Linked DNA regions of Homo sapiens. The protein of the gene in region 1 interacts with the protein of each later gene in a pairwise test. Each region holds a gene or a part of one and is shown on either strand. Other genes may lie near its edges. The genes, in order: TMEM109 and RNF170.

Region 1 (4,368 bases):
TGACCTTTCACAGGACTCACAACAGGGGTGCCCCGTTTACTCAGCCCGCTGCTCTCAACTCCTCATGGGAGGGAGTACGCAAGTGAACAAGGCGGGAACTGGAGTGCACAAGCGCTGGAACAAGCCAGCCGTTTTTCAGCACCAGTGGGATCACACTCCACTCACTCAAGATTCACCGCGTTCCACCCCTCATAGGAGGGAGCGTGCAGGTGAGTGGGTGCAGGAGCCAGAGCGTGCGCTTTTGGACACCGGCAGGAGCGAACTCCGTGCAGGCCCCGGGGCAGTGTCCAGGCAGAGTGCCTGAGGCTCCTGAAGCCCCAGAGGGCATGTTACAGTGTTCTTTTGGCTCTGTCGTCCGTGGACAGCTTAAGTGTTAACAGCTCCGTGGGCCCGCGGTTGCCCTCCACCAGCAAGGGCAGAGGGCCAGCGTGACAGCTTTTGTATCCGCACTCGTGGCTCCCGAGCTCTTGTCCAGCGTCCAAGAAAAATAAAGCTGCACGAACAAATTAAAGGACAAATGCCTGGGATTTTATTGCTGATCAAAGTGGATTTCAGAGGGAAGGTGAGCTGAAAAGAGGGGGGTGGGACAGGCCGGTATGTAGTCTTCCCTTGAAGTCCAGCTATCTCCAGCCAGATTCGTCTCAGAAGTTACGCCTTAAGCTGTCCCTCTGAAGACAAGCTGCTTCTCTCTGACATCCAGCCATGGTCGTCCCCTCATCCAGCTGCTTCTCCTCTCTGCCAGATGAGTCTGGGGTCTTTCTAGGCACAGGATGAGGCAGGGCAGAGCCATGGGTGGCTTAGGAAAAGGCAACATTCAACTGGAAAAACATGGATAGAAGTTCTCACTTTGGGCCATGGTTTCAGGCTTTTTGGCTTGAGGGTGGGGTTTCACCAGGGACCCGCTCTTTTCTACCTAGCATTTATCTGCCTCCTGTCCCTATGCACTGCCTTTGTGGCAGAAAAAGGAGAGTGAGAGTTGGTTCCTCTCTTTCTCTGAAATTCTGAGCTAACATTTGGGAGCCGTCTACAGTATTCAGGTATGAATTTTCTCTCTGGGGGAGCGCATTCGTTTTCCTAGAGCAGTGTGCTTTTAATTGCTCCTTTAATATCTTTCTCTTTTGTGCCTTTTTAGCGCGAAAAGTGTATGGGAAGACTAGGTGCTCGTTAGCGGCTCGGTTAGAACTACATTGCCCACAATGCCCCAGGGAACATTTGTAGCTCTAGAACTACATGACCCAAAATGCCGAGTGGTGGCAAGAGGAGGATTAGCTTCCACTCCGATTTCAAAGATCCAGTTTACCCACTCTACAGCCCAGATATAGTCACTTATTTCCCCTTTCCAGCCAGAGACTTCCGTTCCCTGCTGGAACTTCCGATCCCATTCTTCTCTCGGTGGGAATGCTTGTGGGGGGAAAAAGAAACGCAATAGATAAAGCGGGGCGCATGCGCTCCCGGCACAGGCTTCGATTGTGAGGAAGGCCGGCTAGTCTCCGAGCTCATCCCGCCTTGCGCATGCGGAGAAGGTAAACCAGCGCCCCGAGTTGAGGCGCGGGTTTGGTGGCGCGTTTCAGCGAAGTCGCACGTGAAGGATAGCAGTGGCCTGAGAAAGGTGAGAGCGGGCCGAGGTCGGAATGTGGGGCAGCGCACGGGAAGGGGAGACAGCAGCCGCTGCAGGCGGCACCAGGCGGAGCCGCGAGGCCTGGAGAGTCCGAGTGGGGAGGGGTCCGCGCGCCCAGCGTGCGAAACAAACCGGGGACCCGGATCCCCGTTGCTATGCAACCGGGGGCGTCGTTTCCAGGCAACCCGGGAGGCGCACGTTTCCGGGGAGAAGAGGGTTGCGGCGAGGTTCCGAGGTCCGGCAGAGGTGGAGCGGCTCCCGGGCGTGGGGACCAGGCCAGCGCCAAGCCCGAGCCCCCGAACCCCGACCCACGGCCCAGCCTCCTGCAGCCTCGGCTCGAGCCCTTCGGGGGGCCCCAAACTCATGGGTCGCGCCACGTTCCTTGCCAGCGACGCTACCCCTCAGCGCTTGGCAGGGGACGCGCCGTTCGAAATAGCACATGCCACTGACACCCTGTCTCCGGGAGGCTGCGCCCCGGTTAGGGCGCGGAGCGGCAGGGAAGCTGCCCCTTTGCCGTCGCCCTGCCCCCAAACAGTTGCTGGGCAGCAGCTGTCAGGGGTTTAGTGGGAGCTGCCCCCAACCTGCCAGGGCGCTGACTTCATTCTCTGCAGTGGCGGCTTCGCCTTGTTTAGGACCTTCCTTTAGACTCAGCTGTGCTTCTCGTGTGGCTGCTGTATATTTGGATCTACTATTAAAATAACCTCCCTCCTCACCTCTCCATGGCTTTCTCGTTCGACCCTCACGGTTTCTTGGCAGGTTGCTAATATTCATTTAATAAACATTTATTAGTCATCTTTCCTACTAGGCGCTGGGGATTCCAACATGTCAAGTCTAACCGGGAGTCGCTCGGTCTACTGGGGAAGGCAGGTTGATAAACTGCTAAATTATGCTACGATATATAGTCAGTGGTAATGTGTGTGCTGCAACATTTCTATAGATGTTTAGTTTACAAAGCGCTTGCTGCAGAAATATCTTAACTCCTTACAGCAACTCTTCACCTGGGTTCACTCCCTTTTACGTTTGAGGAGACTGCAACTCAGGCAGGTTAAGTAACAGGCGTAAGGTAGTAGCTTCTAGTCCGTGGCACACTTGAGCCTGGGACGGAAGTCAGGGGTCCTTTGTACACTGCTGCACTTTTGAAGCTTTGCTTAGACTTTTCCCTGAGCTGCTGGCTATGCATCCGAAATTCCTGAGGAGCTTTGCAAAACAAAGGGCTGAGTCCCTCTCTGGAAGAGTCTGAGTGAGTAGCCCTGGGTGGGGCAGACGTCCTTGTTTAACAGGCTGCACAGGCAGTTCCGATGGGCAGCCAAAGTTGAGAACCGCCGCTCCTTAGGGGCAGCTATGAGCAGCGGCGGGACAGTCAGAGCCGGTAGAGGGCACTTTTTGCCGCCCCTCCTGCCACCTGGTGATTCATAGCATGAAATGAAACTAACAAAAGGAAAGAGAAGAGGAGGAAGGAGCCTTGATTGGGAGGGGGGGGCGCGAAATGCCCCATCCTACCCTTGTAGCAAACCACAGCTAAACATAAGCAGTGGCGCCTTCTCACTAACACAATAAGTAAAGCTGTTTCCCCAGCCAGGCTGGGCTCTCCAGACCCACCTGAGCCATATTGCAGCTGCCGAACAGAAGTGGCAGGTTTTGTCTCCCACCTTTTGCTGTCCTCTCATACCTCTTGGTACAAAACCATGGCCTGTAAGCCCAGAAGGCAGATGGTCTCCTGGTATGTGTTCCCTCGGAGGAGTCTGGATGTCCTTCCACTTTGAGCTTGTTGGTGAACTTCAGCTCCATGAGGGCAGGGACTATGTCCACTATCAAGGCAGCATGCGGGTATGGGACAAGCAAAAAGGCAAGATTGAGATCCTGGGTACTGGAGTCAAGTCCCAGCTCTGCTGTGTGATCTTGGATAAGTCACTCAACCTCTCTAAGCCATACTTTTCTGAGTAAGATGAAGAGGGTAATAATACCTTAAAAGATTGTTGTTAGAGTTAAATGAAGTGATGAAACAATAAGCACTCTGTGAATTATAAAGCACCACACAAAAATTATTATAACATATGTATATGTATAGATATGTATAACATTTGTATTATTATGAGTTGTTAATTGAGTGCCTATTATTTGTCTGAGGCCAGGCATTGCAGAAGGTGAAGAAGTTTTAAGACATGCTTCCTCCTCTCAGAGGCTGAGACTGTTTCCATGCCTTTAGTAAAACTATTTGATTAGGCCAAAGTGAGGAGGCCTAATAGCAGTGAGTCCATACTGCCTGAGATTCACCTGGAAAAAAATGAGAAGGAATCCTATTAAAGAAAACAATTTGAAAAAGCAGACCAGCCAGCCAATCTCTGCACTCATTATCTCCAAAGGATACACTACACAATCCTGTTAGGTTTGGTATCTGGTGCACTTCAGAACATCAGTCTGCATAACGATGCCAGCCTCACTGCAGAGGGCTTATTTCAAGGTCTCCTAGCTCCCCTTAACTGGGGCAGACAGCCACTGGAGAGTTGGGGCTGGCACAGAACAAGGCAGGCTGCTGTGGGAGGAGCAGCTTATGGCACCCTGACCTCCTAGGGCTGAGGAAACGATATTTGATCCCTCCTGGTGGAGGTCCTTGGATAAAGGATCCAACCCAAGATAGCAACCCTGCTCTTTTAAGTCCCCAACATGGTTATGACCCAGATAGCTCAGGAACTCACCTGTGCTTTCCTCATCTGCGACCACTGGCAGGCAGGAACCATCTGGTTCTTGAT
Region 2 (3,220 bases), on another chromosome or scaffold:
CCAATAGTATATAATATTTTATTGGAACAAAAATATTTAGATGAGTTTCACAGCTATATATTATCATATAGGTACCTGCTGAGAAGGATAAGATGGATAAACTGACATTTAACAATATTTTACTATACATCTAATTAATCTAAGTAATTCTGGGGAAAAGAAAAATATATAAAAGCATCCCTTTTTATATAATTCCATATTTTTTCCAGACAACATAGAATCAAGATACAACTGTAGATCATTATAATTCTAAACTTAATATTAGAACTTCAAACATGAAAATTCCAGTTATACCTAGGTATTTGTCAAATGATAATCAAATGTTTGTCTTATAGTGGTTTTATATTTGTGAGATAATACTCCATTGCTTCATTGCTTTATACTGCCATGGGTCCTTCTGTTTGATGTTCTACATTAGCTCAGATATCCTAGTAAACTCAGTTTTGTTTTCTTTTTCATCTAGTTAGCCTTTGGGTTATCACTTCTCGATACATAATAGAGATGTAGATAAGCAATAAAAAGATGACAAAGAAATCATCTAGAAAGCCTAGAATTCCAAACAAGGCTTCAGGTACAAAATCTAGAGGTGATATAAGATAGAAAAAAGCTCCCATTAAACAAAGTATTATCCTGATGCGAAACATCCAGAAAAGGCCCCCGACTGAAAACATTTCCCTGAATGCATGCCTCAGTAAAGTGGGTAGATCCATAATTCTCTCCATAATCTGGTAGAGGGAAAAACAAGTATTATGATTCAGCACCTAATGTGTCAGATTTCAAAATAATATAATTTTCTTACTATATGTAAACATTGTTAAGATGAATTAAGGAGTTACACATTAATTGAACATATTTTCTAATTATGTGTTGTATTTAAAAATAGCTCTTTGAATACTAGTTCTTACAGAATAGATCTTATTGCAGATAATTGAAAGGCAACTAAAGTGTCAACAAGCTTAAAATACGGGATATAGTAATGCAAAACTCAAGTAACATCTGATTTGAGTTAGTAAAATAAACCAAAGAACCTAGCGCGCAGGATTAGAGTCTGAGACTTGAGCTTAAGTCTCAGCTTTAAAGTCAGACAGATCTGGGTTTGAATTCAAAATCAATCACTTACTAGCCAGGTGATCTTAGGAACAGTTGCTTAACCTACTAGAGATAATTCAACAACTAACTGTGTATTTATGTGCAAGGACTGTTAAGAACGAAAAGGTTCCCTGGCAAGCGGACTAAAAATTCAAAAGAAAAAAATAACTAAAAGAGATACTGTGTATGAAAGACCTTTATAACTTGCCAGACAATATAGAAGTGATTATACATTAAAGACATAGGAACTTTGATGGCTTAAATAGTTTAAGAATAGCAGTGAAACTGATTCCTTCTGGTGAATCACTTCCTCTGGTCATTTCTCTGCTATGTTTAACAATCTGTGTAACAGTCATACACGCAAACTCTAGATAGGCGTTTTATGTAACAAGTGCCAAATAAGTTGAGAGGGAGATGGAGACAAAAACGCAAAGAACTGAGCAAGTGAGGAGAAAATAGTTTTTGAAACCCCCAGACTAAGAGAAAATCATCTTGTGACTCCTTTTGGAACAATGCTCACCGAAGTACAAGAATGGTTGTTTCATAATCACTTCCTATGTTCTGTGGAAGAACTAATATCTAAAGCAAAACAGCCTTACAGCTTTCACAAAGTTTATAGTAAATGACTTTAGATACTCTAACAAACAGCCAGCATGTCTTTTGAATACCCTTCTGTCCTTTTTCAGAGCTATTTTGTTCACTTGTAATACAGTATCATCATTTATACAAAATCTTTAATAATTAGACCAGAAATAATGAAATGGTTTAGTAAGAAATGTTTCTGCATAAACTTACTCCAACTTTGAAGGAGGCAGAATATTAAAGAGCTAAATGCCTTTTTTATATTATAATTTCATCACATACCAGGCTTTCTTACTCATTAAATATCTGACACAAAAAATAATAATTGAGTAATAGTATGCTTCACATTTTAAAAATAATGAAGGAAAAATTCTAAAGGCTGGATGCAGTGGCTCACACTGGTAATCCCAGCACTTTGGGAGGCCAAGGTGAGCAGATCGCTTGAAGCCAAGAGTTTTGAGATCAGCCTGGAAAGCAGGGTGAAACCCCGTCTCTACTAAAAATACAAAAATTAGCTGGGCATGGTGGCACACACCTGTAATCCCAGCTAGTCAGGTGGCTGAAATATGAGAACTGTTTGAACCCAGGAGACAGAGGTTGCAGTGAGCCGAGATCGCGCCATTGCATTCTGGCCTGGGCGACAGAGCGAGACTCTGTCTCAAAAAGAAAAGAAATGAAAAGAAAAATGTTAAATGACTTTATTAAAGTTTAGTGGTAGCTCTTAAATTTGAAACAGGTTGCATTTTTAAAGAACCATCCTACTGATGTCACCGGAGGATATGTAAAAAAAAAATTGCTGGGTCAAAATTGCAGAAGAGGCTCCCAAATAATTATGGAGGACAACATGATTGGATTAAGTTTTTTTTTTTCCTGCTCAATGAAAAATGGGTAAATCTACCCATTATCATCCATAACAGTTGAAATCTATGCCCTGAAATGTACACGACCTCACAGAACAAGGAACAATGGAGCATGAGCACATGTCTGTTTAACACTGAAGCATCTGAATAGCTTAATATATTCGGCTGGGAGCAGCAGTATCAATTCTTATCTTAACAGTAATTCATTTATTCAACACACATTAAGGCACCAAATTTGGCACTGTTGGAAACTCGGCAGTGGTAAATAAATAAAAATGGTCCTTACCCTTATGAAGCTTTTAGTTTACTGAGAGAAAGATAATGAACAAGAATTGAGTGCTGTCTATGATAAACGCCATGAAGGAAAGGTACAGAGGGCGCCACAGAGCAGGGAAAACTTCTCCAAGGAGGGTCTACTTAAGATAGTTGTCATTTAAAGACTGGGAAATCACCATAAGAGCAGAAGGACAAGCATTCCATGCAGAGGAAGTGTCAGGTGTGACAGCCTTAAGGTGGAAGGAGTTTGTGTGTGTGCTGAGAGCATAGAGCAGGGTGGCTGCAGGGTGGTGATTGAGGCGGTTAACAGAAATTTGGAGAGGGAGGGAGGACCAGATCATGTGGCGCCCTGTAAGCCACAGTAAGGAGTTGGAACATTCAAAGACATTGGGCCACAAGTGGTGGCTCATGCC

Evidence for each region.
Region 2: the proteins of TMEM109 (region 1) and RNF170 interact in binary tests that used the Homo sapiens proteins (3 or more experiments, as listed by UniProt).

Annotation. Positions count from the first base shown.
Region 1 is NC_000011.10:60,912,660-60,917,027, forward strand, and holds the start of TMEM109 (voltage-gated monoatomic cation channel TMEM109 precursor), read left to right. Parts: upstream 1-1,498; 5' UTR 1,499-1,609; intron 1,610-4,368. UniProt on the Homo sapiens protein: Functions as a voltage-gated monoatomic cation channel permeable to both potassium and calcium. Plays a role in the cellular response to DNA damage.
Region 2 is NC_000008.11:42,855,704-42,858,923, forward strand, and holds part of RNF170 (E3 ubiquitin-protein ligase RNF170), read right to left. Parts: intron 726-3,220; coding exon 456-725; 3' UTR 1-455. UniProt on the Homo sapiens protein: E3 ubiquitin-protein ligase that plays an essential role in stimulus-induced inositol 1,4,5-trisphosphate receptor type 1 (ITPR1) ubiquitination and degradation via the endoplasmic reticulum-associated degradation (ERAD) pathway.